2 linked regions of the Homo sapiens genome follow. The protein of the gene in region 2 interacts with the protein of the main gene of each other region in a pairwise test. Each region holds a gene or a part of one and is shown on either strand. Other genes may lie near its edges.

Evidence for each region. Proteins that work in one complex are often made in the same cells at the same time.
Region 1: the proteins of STOM (region 2) and SFT2D2 interact in binary tests that used the Homo sapiens proteins (3 or more experiments, as listed by UniProt).

The regions. Positions count from the first base shown.
Region 1 is NC_000001.11:168,236,004-168,239,503, reverse strand, and holds part of SFT2D2 (vesicle transport protein SFT2B), read right to left. Parts: intron 2,916-3,500; coding exon 2,880-2,915; intron 2,793-2,879; coding exon 2,734-2,792; intron 374-2,733; coding exon 344-373; intron 1-343. UniProt on the Homo sapiens protein: May be involved in fusion of retrograde transport vesicles derived from an endocytic compartment with the Golgi complex.
Region 2 is NC_000009.12:121,362,803-121,368,406, forward strand, and holds part of STOM (stomatin), read right to left. Parts: intron 3,444-5,604; exon of another isoform or gene 3,314-3,443; intron 1-3,313. UniProt on the Homo sapiens protein: Regulates ion channel activity and transmembrane ion transport. Regulates ASIC2 and ASIC3 channel activity.

The DNA of each region.
Region 1 (3,500 bases), on a different chromosome or scaffold from region 2:
TGATATGAAATGACATTCACCTTTATAAAAAAAAAAAAAAAAAAAACCCTACTCAAAGCTACGGGTTAAAAGAGTAATAATGTGCATATATGCACCATATATAAGAGTAGAATGTTCACAGCATTGGAAATCAGTGTACCTGGGTAAATATCCATCATTAGTTGTATAATTAGAGTGGGTGGTGGGGTGACCTTTAACTTACTTATCTATAAATGAGATGTATAGTATTTGTCTACTTGACTCAAAAGACTTCAGTAAAGATAAATAAAATAGGCTATACTCTCTGAAAGCAGACTCTGAATTAAAATGACAGAAATCATTATTTCCAAATACACAGTCTTACCTTGCAAATGGTATGAAGGAAAGGCTGTACCTATAATGAAAAACAAAACAAAGGGTCAAATGAGATGAAGGGAGTAGCAGATTATCCAGCAGAATGGGCTTCTGAGCTGTAAGAATACCTGCAGTGATCTATCCAGACCCTCTCCCATACTCAGCCTGGGGGATGAGCATGTGCACACAAAGGCCCACGCATGTGCATGCACGTGTACCCAAACACACACACTATGGCCATGTACAGATAGGCAGCCACAGAAGAAGGGCAAAAGGTTCATGTGGAGATAACCCGTATGACCTCGGCCTCAATGCAGTACTGCTATAACCTTGAACTAGCAACAATCACCTTAAACAGTCAGATTTCAAATACCCAGATGGCACAGAAACTCTATTCTGAAAAAATATCAAATAAAACCCAGAACAGTTGAACCGCACCCCCCTCCTTTATTTATTTATTTATTTTTTTTTTTGAGACAGGGTCGTGCTCGTCACCTAGGCTGCTGGAATATAGTGGCTCAATCATAGCTCACTGCAGCCTTGAATTTCTAGGCTCAAGTCTAGGAAGCTCAAGCAATCCCCCTGCCTCAGCCTCCAGAATTGCTGGGACTACAAGTATGTGCCACCATGCCCGGCTAATTTTTTAATGTTTTTTTTTGTTTGTTTGTTTGTTTTTTTGCAGAGACCCGGTCTTGCTACACTGTCCAGGCTAGTCTCAAACTCCTGGCTTCAAGCAATCCTCCCACCTCAGCCTCCCAAAGTCTTGGCATTACAGTGTGAGCCACCCATACCTGGCACAGTTGAACTCCTAACATTTTATAAATTCTAAACAGAATTTAACTTCTACCTAATTGGGATAAATTTTCTGCTCTGCTCCTATTAATTTTAAAAGAAGAGAAAAGAGAATAAAAAAGAAGAAGAAAAAAATGCTACCAACTACTCTATGAGTGAAAATGTAGTACGTCCAAAGGTATCTTGGTAAATTCCAGTTAGCTCAGCCCTGTCACTTAGAAGGAAACCATATACAAGGAACAGGCTCCATAATGCTAAAGAACCAGGCACTGTGTGTCAGGCAGACTGTAAGTTAGCCCTTAGAAAAGCAAACACAGTCAGAACACATGAGTGTTGAAGGGAATATCACCATTCAGCTGGACCCATATGAATGCTGAACCTCTGAAACTGGATTCAAAATCAGTCTATAAGCAAAGCAAGGTGTGTGTATATAGGTACCAATTTCTGCCCTGGAAGAAAAATCAAAATATAAACAGTCTACCACTCAAATGTGCATGTCATTTAAAAAAAAAAAAAACATACACACACACACACACATAAACACAAACACCAGCATCCTTCTCCATATCTTATACTTAACATGTACAGAAGCTCAATTACTTGTCAACACAGTAAATTCCAAAAGGCAATTTGTAACTATATTTATTCAAAAGTCCAAAATTGCTAAAGGGAGGGATGGGAGTTAAGCTTACAGTCTCAAGATTCATTTCTACCAAATAGGAGTTAACCAATTCTTCAGAACTTTAAAATGTCCACAATCCTCCTTTCTTTACACTGTAGCAAACATTTTTTTCAAAAATAGGTGAGTCACATCTATACTGAAACTGTTCTGGCAGATACCATCCCTTGATAAACTTTGAAAGAACTACAGAAATGTCTTGGAACCTACAGATTCCAACTATGCCACCACCCCTCTCACTCTGAGGTCGTATAGGCTTGAAAGGACCATGAACCTACAGCCCCACTCATGGTTTCCCAAAATGTCTCCAGCGGCCCTTTTACTATACTTGGCTCTGGAGTTACAATTTCCTACTCTTCAGCTGAATTACCAAAAGCCAACAAGCCTCTGAGCACATACGCTGATCCTACAGCCCACAGACACACGTTTTTCCATTTCGTCAGTGACTGTTCCTCATCTCCTGCTGACAGTTCACTCTTTGTCCTTCTGTTAAATGATTCATTCTATCACAAATGTAACATTCATTATTTTTCTTACCACTTTCCTTTTTTGTTAACCTCTATTGGACTCACAAGCCTTTTTAACATCCCTTATAATACTTTTGTTGTCCTTGCACTTACCGGACATGAGTGGCTTAATAATATTTGTAACATCTCAAAAATCAACCATTAGTTCAGCAAAAATGCCACAGCAGGCAAACAAGGAGCCTCCTGTGACCACTCAAGACCACTAATGCCATCTATTGGCAGTGGGCTGGGTTGATAGGCATTTGCTCTGGAGCCTGACTTCACTTTCATCATTACGAATCCTTAAATTAAACAGCTTCTGTGTTTTCTTAATTCTCCCACCCACAATATGTGAGTTTTATCTCCTTTGGCTACATTATTCAGTGGGCTATGTGGGAGGGGATTGTTTAAAAGGTTACTTACCACGTCAATGCCAAAGACTGCAAAATGCAGAAGATAAGTGCAAGTCCCTTGTTATGCCACTGGAAAAATAATAATATGGTTATAGGAGAGTGTGAGACAAGGGGCAAAAGCCAAAATGGTTAAGAAAAATTAAAATATACATTTACCCAAAAGGCAGAACACAGGGTAAGTGCAAAACACAACTAAAGGAAGAAAGGAAACATTAATTAATGACAATAACATGGCAGGAAAAAAAAAACTCAAAACTTGTTATTCTTCACAAATGCACAAAACTTATGCATCCTTCATCTCAAAGCAGTTAACCCACCTGAGCACCCATATTTGGCAGAATAGTTAAAAATCTCCATGAAATCAAACTAGCCAATAAAGATTCACATAGATAAGATGTTCTTTTACTTTCAAGTTTTCCCAGAACCTCTGCCCAGCAAACAAATCACATTTCAGGCCCACCCATTCATCCGTCCATCCATCTTTTCATTCAAATGCACTAAAGTAAGCTTAACACAAATCTTTCTATTTTAACTCCTACCAAATGCTAGTCTCTGCAGCAGAAAGCACATGTGAGGACAAAGGTTAACCTGAGATATCAATCTCACAGTCAGCATGCCAGTTACTTGTGTACCTATCACCTAACACTTTCCCTAAGGCCATTCTTAGAAAGCTCTTTCTGCAAGAGACTTGTCCAGGCCGTGGGCATCTGAGGCTGGCCAAGGACAACTGGTGCTAGAGCAGTCAGCCATGCCTTTCTTCGCCATCCTTCTATAACA
Region 2 (5,604 bases):
ACCAAGCAAACCATGAAACAAATGAAATTTGTTGTGTAGTAATTTTTGTTGGGTAAGTTTCTGGAAAGGCAGTTAAACATTCTTTCCAAGATGACAACACAGGCTGATTAGTCCAGAGGGCTGTAGTTGTCCCCGTTCCCCATCAGCTGATTTACTTTCAGATCTATTAACCTTAGCACTACTGGAAATCATGTGGAGTAATAAATCCACTCATCACTGAGATTTTATTATTGTAAAGTTCAACAGATAACTGGATTTCCTCTGCTGAGAATCTGACTGTGAGTCATAAGCATTATCCTACACAATAAGAAAGGATGGGCTAAGGAATTACTGAAATACCTAAACTGCCACTTTTTAACGGACACTTTTTTCCTTCTGCCTTCACAGAGTGCAAATAAAACACTTCATGTTGTAAATTGATGAGAGCAGTCCTGCCTGGATGGGGCAAGACAGAAAGGCTGGAAGTTTAGTCTCAAAAACACATGCTATTCAGTTGCAGCAGCACTTTTTAGGGGTAACAGTAGGCCAAATTGAAAAGTCTTGGCAATTTTTGAACTTTCTTCTTAAAAACATATGTATTCAGGATTAAGTGTTACTTTTGGCCACTATGATTCTTCATCAGTGATTCTTTGTCAGGATTGGCAAACTTTTCCTGTAAAGAACCAGGAACTAAATATTTTGGGCTTTGCAGTCTGTTGCAACTACTCAACTCTACTTTTGCAGTGCAAAAGAAGCCATAGATAGTACCTACATAAACAGCACAGCTGTTCCAATAAAACTTATGGACATAAATCTGAATTTCACATAATTTTCATGTGTAATGAAAAAGTATTCTTTTGCCTTTTTAAAATCATTTAAAAATATAAGAGCTATTTCATAACTTGTGGGACATACAGAAACAGAGTCAGCTAGATTTGGACAATGGGCTGTTACACGCTGTTCCTGTTTTATGTCAGCCAACTATTTATTTGAGGAGGAAGACTTGCATAAATTAAATAATGCATTTGATCTTTCTTCCAGCTATTCAAATAAGGGTACATTTCCCAGCTTCTCAGTTTCTCCCTTTTGCTTATTTTGAAGCAAGGCCTTTATAAGGCCTGATAAACAAAAACTCCTGGTGAAAATAAGCAAAAGGGCAGGTAGAGTAAGTGAATATAAATTCCTCTTCAATTAATCAAATTTTTACTATAACTAAGTTTTTCAAATGACTGGAATTTTAGGAGAAAAAGACAAAGAAGGGAAGGACATAGCAGAAGCGAAGGAAAATAAGAGAAATAGAAGGAGTAAAAATGGGAGAAACAAAAATGAAGACAGAATCCTACAAAGAGAGATAGATTAAAAAAGCTAGAAGTGAGAAAGAGGCAGAGTTTACCACATGGTAGCGTCTCGATAAACGTATGTTAAAAAATGATAGTGTTTCATTAGAGATCAAAACTTGCAATTCATTTAAGGCAGAAGATTTCAAAGCAAACAAGCACACACACATTATAGCCTGCCTTTCAAATTAGTATTTTAATTAGGCACGGCTTAGTTGTTCGAATGCCCTTATCCTTAAATCTCTAGAGAAGAAATTATTCTTGGGGCTAGAGTAGCTACAGGCCAGATGGTATCAAGTTAAAAACCATGAGTGAAGACTGTAACTTTTCCTCCCTATTAAAATCCATCTATAGTTATAAATGCTAGACCAAAAGAACTGATACTGATGAAGCACTATGTGGTTTGAATTACAAAGCTTAAAATGTGTTTACTGTGAAATACTAAGGAAAACAAATGGACTAATACTTCTAAGAAAGATTTGCAATAACAGTTATTCTTTGCTTAGCTCAAAAAGAATAAGGAAAGTAAATAAGCATAAATGTCTTATTTCCTAAATATTTTAAGGATTTTCTGTAGTTTTCCTGCATTCAAATGTTTCAGGCCATACAAGAGGAAAAAAATAGGTGAGAGCAACAGCAATAATTTTAAATTTGGACCTCTCAGTCTAAAATAATGCTGCAATAGCCCTTTACCCTTTTAAAACAACATTTATCACACTTGTAATTATTCTATTCAGTTGTGTGTCTTCATGAGATTTTGGTTTTATGAAAACAGTATAGCATAATAGGTTCACAGATGGCTCTGCCACTTACTAGCTGTGTGATCTTGAGAAAGTACCTTATTATTCAACTGTGCCTCAGTCTACCCATTGAAACATAGGGCTAATAAGAGTACCTCCTCAGGTTAGTGTGATGAGTAAATAAGCTAATATGGAAGACACTTAGTGTATATAACAGGTACTCAAAAAACATTTGTTAAATAGTTGCTGGATGAGTTGAGTGTGTTGTTTTTTTGGGGAAAAGAAAAAAAAAAGACTGCCTCTCACATAAGACAAACTGAAACAGCAGACAGGATCCTGGGATACAGTACAGAACCATCTCCTGCCCAAGCAGTTGTCAACTGCTTTCCTCAAGTATTTTCTTTTTAAAAAAAAAATCAGACCTTTTCCAACCATGACGTTAGAGAATTCAGGAAAGCAGAAGAATGGGCTGAACATGGCCCATGTCTGGAAGCACCAAAACATTTATGTTCAGGAAAATTGGAGAGAAAAACAATTTCATAATGGGTATTAAGTTAATTAAATTTCATCTAGGCCTGAAATACATGAAAACAGAACAAAAACCCTCCCACTTTTTAGGTTTTTTTTTTTTTTCCCAGCTCTTTTACTTGGACATCTTAAAATTATTCACAATTAAGTTTTTCTCATATAAGTCTTTGGAGGGTAACATCGTTTTCATTTAAAAATGGGAAATGGAAGCAGAAGAAAACTAGATGATAAAGTTCTCAGTTCTTCACTGTGATTAACAGCTAAGCAGTGGCTAAAAGCTTGCATTTTTGGTGTTAGATTCCAAATCTACCACTAAATTTTCTTATCAGTAAAATGGGGAAAAGAACAGTATTTATTTCACTCAGTTGTTGTGGAGATAAAACGAGAAAATATGTAAAGGGCTTGACACTTAGGAAGTATTCAACAAGCAGTAGCCATTATTATTACCACAACTTTAAGATCACTATTGATAAGTTTAGAGGAAGAAACTTTTTATGAAGTGAATTACCTTTTGGGATCTGGGCACTATGGAGAAAATATCAACTAACAATCTGCTTGGGGACTCTATCTCTGGAGGAGAAACAGACTACACTTGGGGCAGTAAGTCAGAGTTCTAAATGTTCTTGGACCATCCTTCATACAAATCTCTTAAGTGATGGTAGGGTGATCTCAACCTAAATCTTTTAATTATAAATTCCACTCTCATTTCACTATATTCTACTACCTTACCATAGTGCTCACTTTAACTGGACCACAAGTTCAGTATAGTTTTCATTGTCTGAGACTTTAGGACTTTATTGGTTGTATCTTCAAGGATAATCTTCTGAAATGTGAGGCCAAATGCTTGGAGTTCAAGTTTCTTTAGTAGTCCCAGCAGACAGAGAAAGATTAAAAAAGAATGTAGCAACAAGTGTGTGTCAATAGAAAATTATTTTAATTGAAATGATCTATTTTAATTATCAACAAGTGTGTGTCAATAGAAAATTATCTATTGACACACACTTCCTTCTTTCTACTAACCATGACCTCTAAACTTCTCTTTCCATGCTTTAATAAATAAAAGGAGATTTCTTATTAAGGACAATATATTATCTTGGCAATTATAATCCTTTTATTGATAATATAAACCCAGACAAATAGTCTATCTGTAATAATATATAATAAACATAATGGCCATGCCCTAAAATCAACAGCTTAAGTTATAACAAACTTAATAAAATAAATGGTAAACAGAAAAACTGCTCCACCAACATAAGGCTAAGGCAAACACTTAACAATGTTATTTACTCCAGGGGGATTTTTATCTCCCTGCCTGCTTCCTTTTTCTTTGAACAAATGTTTTTGTATACCTACTATGTACTTGATACTGGGCTACTACAGTGAAGAAGGACACAATCTCTATTTTCAAAAGTGTGGTCTAAAGGCCAGGCTTGGTAGCTCATGCCTGTTGTCCCAGCACTCTGGGAGGGTAAAGTGGGATCGCTTGAGTCCAGGAGTTCGAGACCAGCCTGGGCAACATAGTGAGACCCTGAGTTAAAAAAAAAAAAAAAATTAGCTGGGTGTGGTGGTGCATACCTGTAGTCCCAGCTACTCGAGGGGCTGAGGTGGGAGGATCACTTGAGGCTACAGTGAGCTATGACTGCACCATTGCACTCCAGCCTGGGCAACAGAGCAAGACCCGGTCTCAAAAAGAAAAAGTGTAGTTTAATTATGGGAGGGGAGGGGACAGATGAGTCAAACTGATAAATATGTTATGTAATAAACATTATGATAGAGATATGCACAGGATACCAGGCAGACGCAGGGAAAGGGTATTCACTTTTTTTGTAGTTACAATAGTTTTCAGGAAATTGCTTTTCCATGCCTTCTTAAAAAAACTGATTTTGAATTCCATCTGTATCACTTTATCAACATCTTTTTTTTCCCTCAAAGATGACTAGGAATCAGTGACTGTCTTTTACTAGGTAAAATTTATACCATCAAATGGCACCAAAAATCTATTTAATCATGAATAAATATGCCAGTTTTGTAGACTTGGTCTTCCATAAGTTAATTTATGACCACTGATGGAATAACTCAGATTAATTATTGAAGAAGTTACAAAGTTCTCTCCAATCTGATTGGCTATAACAACTGAAATAAACAATCAGTCTCCCAAAGGGTTTTATTTGTTGACATGGCTCTTAATTACAGTGATACATTCTTTGCAATTACTTGCATTATTTCATTACAAAGTGAATGCATCGCCTTTAAGAAAAACTAGTCTTGCCCTAGGCCTGGTGCTATTTACCTACCTAGGACTAATTCTCAGTAAAGACAAAGAGGCAGAGTTTAGGCTTTTAAAATTCCACTGCTTCTTTCACAAGCAGCCTTCTGGAAGTCATCACTGAAGCTGTGTTCCTCCAGGCTTTTTTTGTTTATTGTCTCTCAACTTAAGTAAAGTACTGAAGTTAGACAAGGTTCTACATTTTGGTATCCATCTCTGGGATAGGGAAAATGATTCAGAAAATCAGATAGCCGGGGTTTGAAACAGGGCTGAAAATTTTAGAAACTGTGATTTTGCCATGTGAGCCGCAGTATCCTTATTGTGAAATGGTGAATAATGACTTTTTCCTTGTAGAGCTGTTACAGAATGCAATTAGATAATGTTTGTAAAGCACTTAAACTGTCTTTTGGCACAGGGAAAGCATTCAATAACCTCTATTTAATAAATTCCAGCAATACCTTTCCTAGTAGCGTCAAATTTGTTAGGTTTACATTAAAAAAACACAGACTATGCAAAATTTTATTTGTATGTCTAATTTTTGAGAGGAAGTGGTGGTTTTCATTAGATCTTGAAAGATTTCTGTCTAAACAGTAGTTAAGTGTAGAACCAAGGAAAAAAACTGGAAGTTAAAAACTCATCTATGACCACTTGTCTGTAAATAAACATTAAGTACAAAGATCATGTTGATTCTCAAAGAACTCCAAGCAGATTTGCCACTGCAGTTTCCCACCAGGAGGTCAGGGTATTGAGGAAT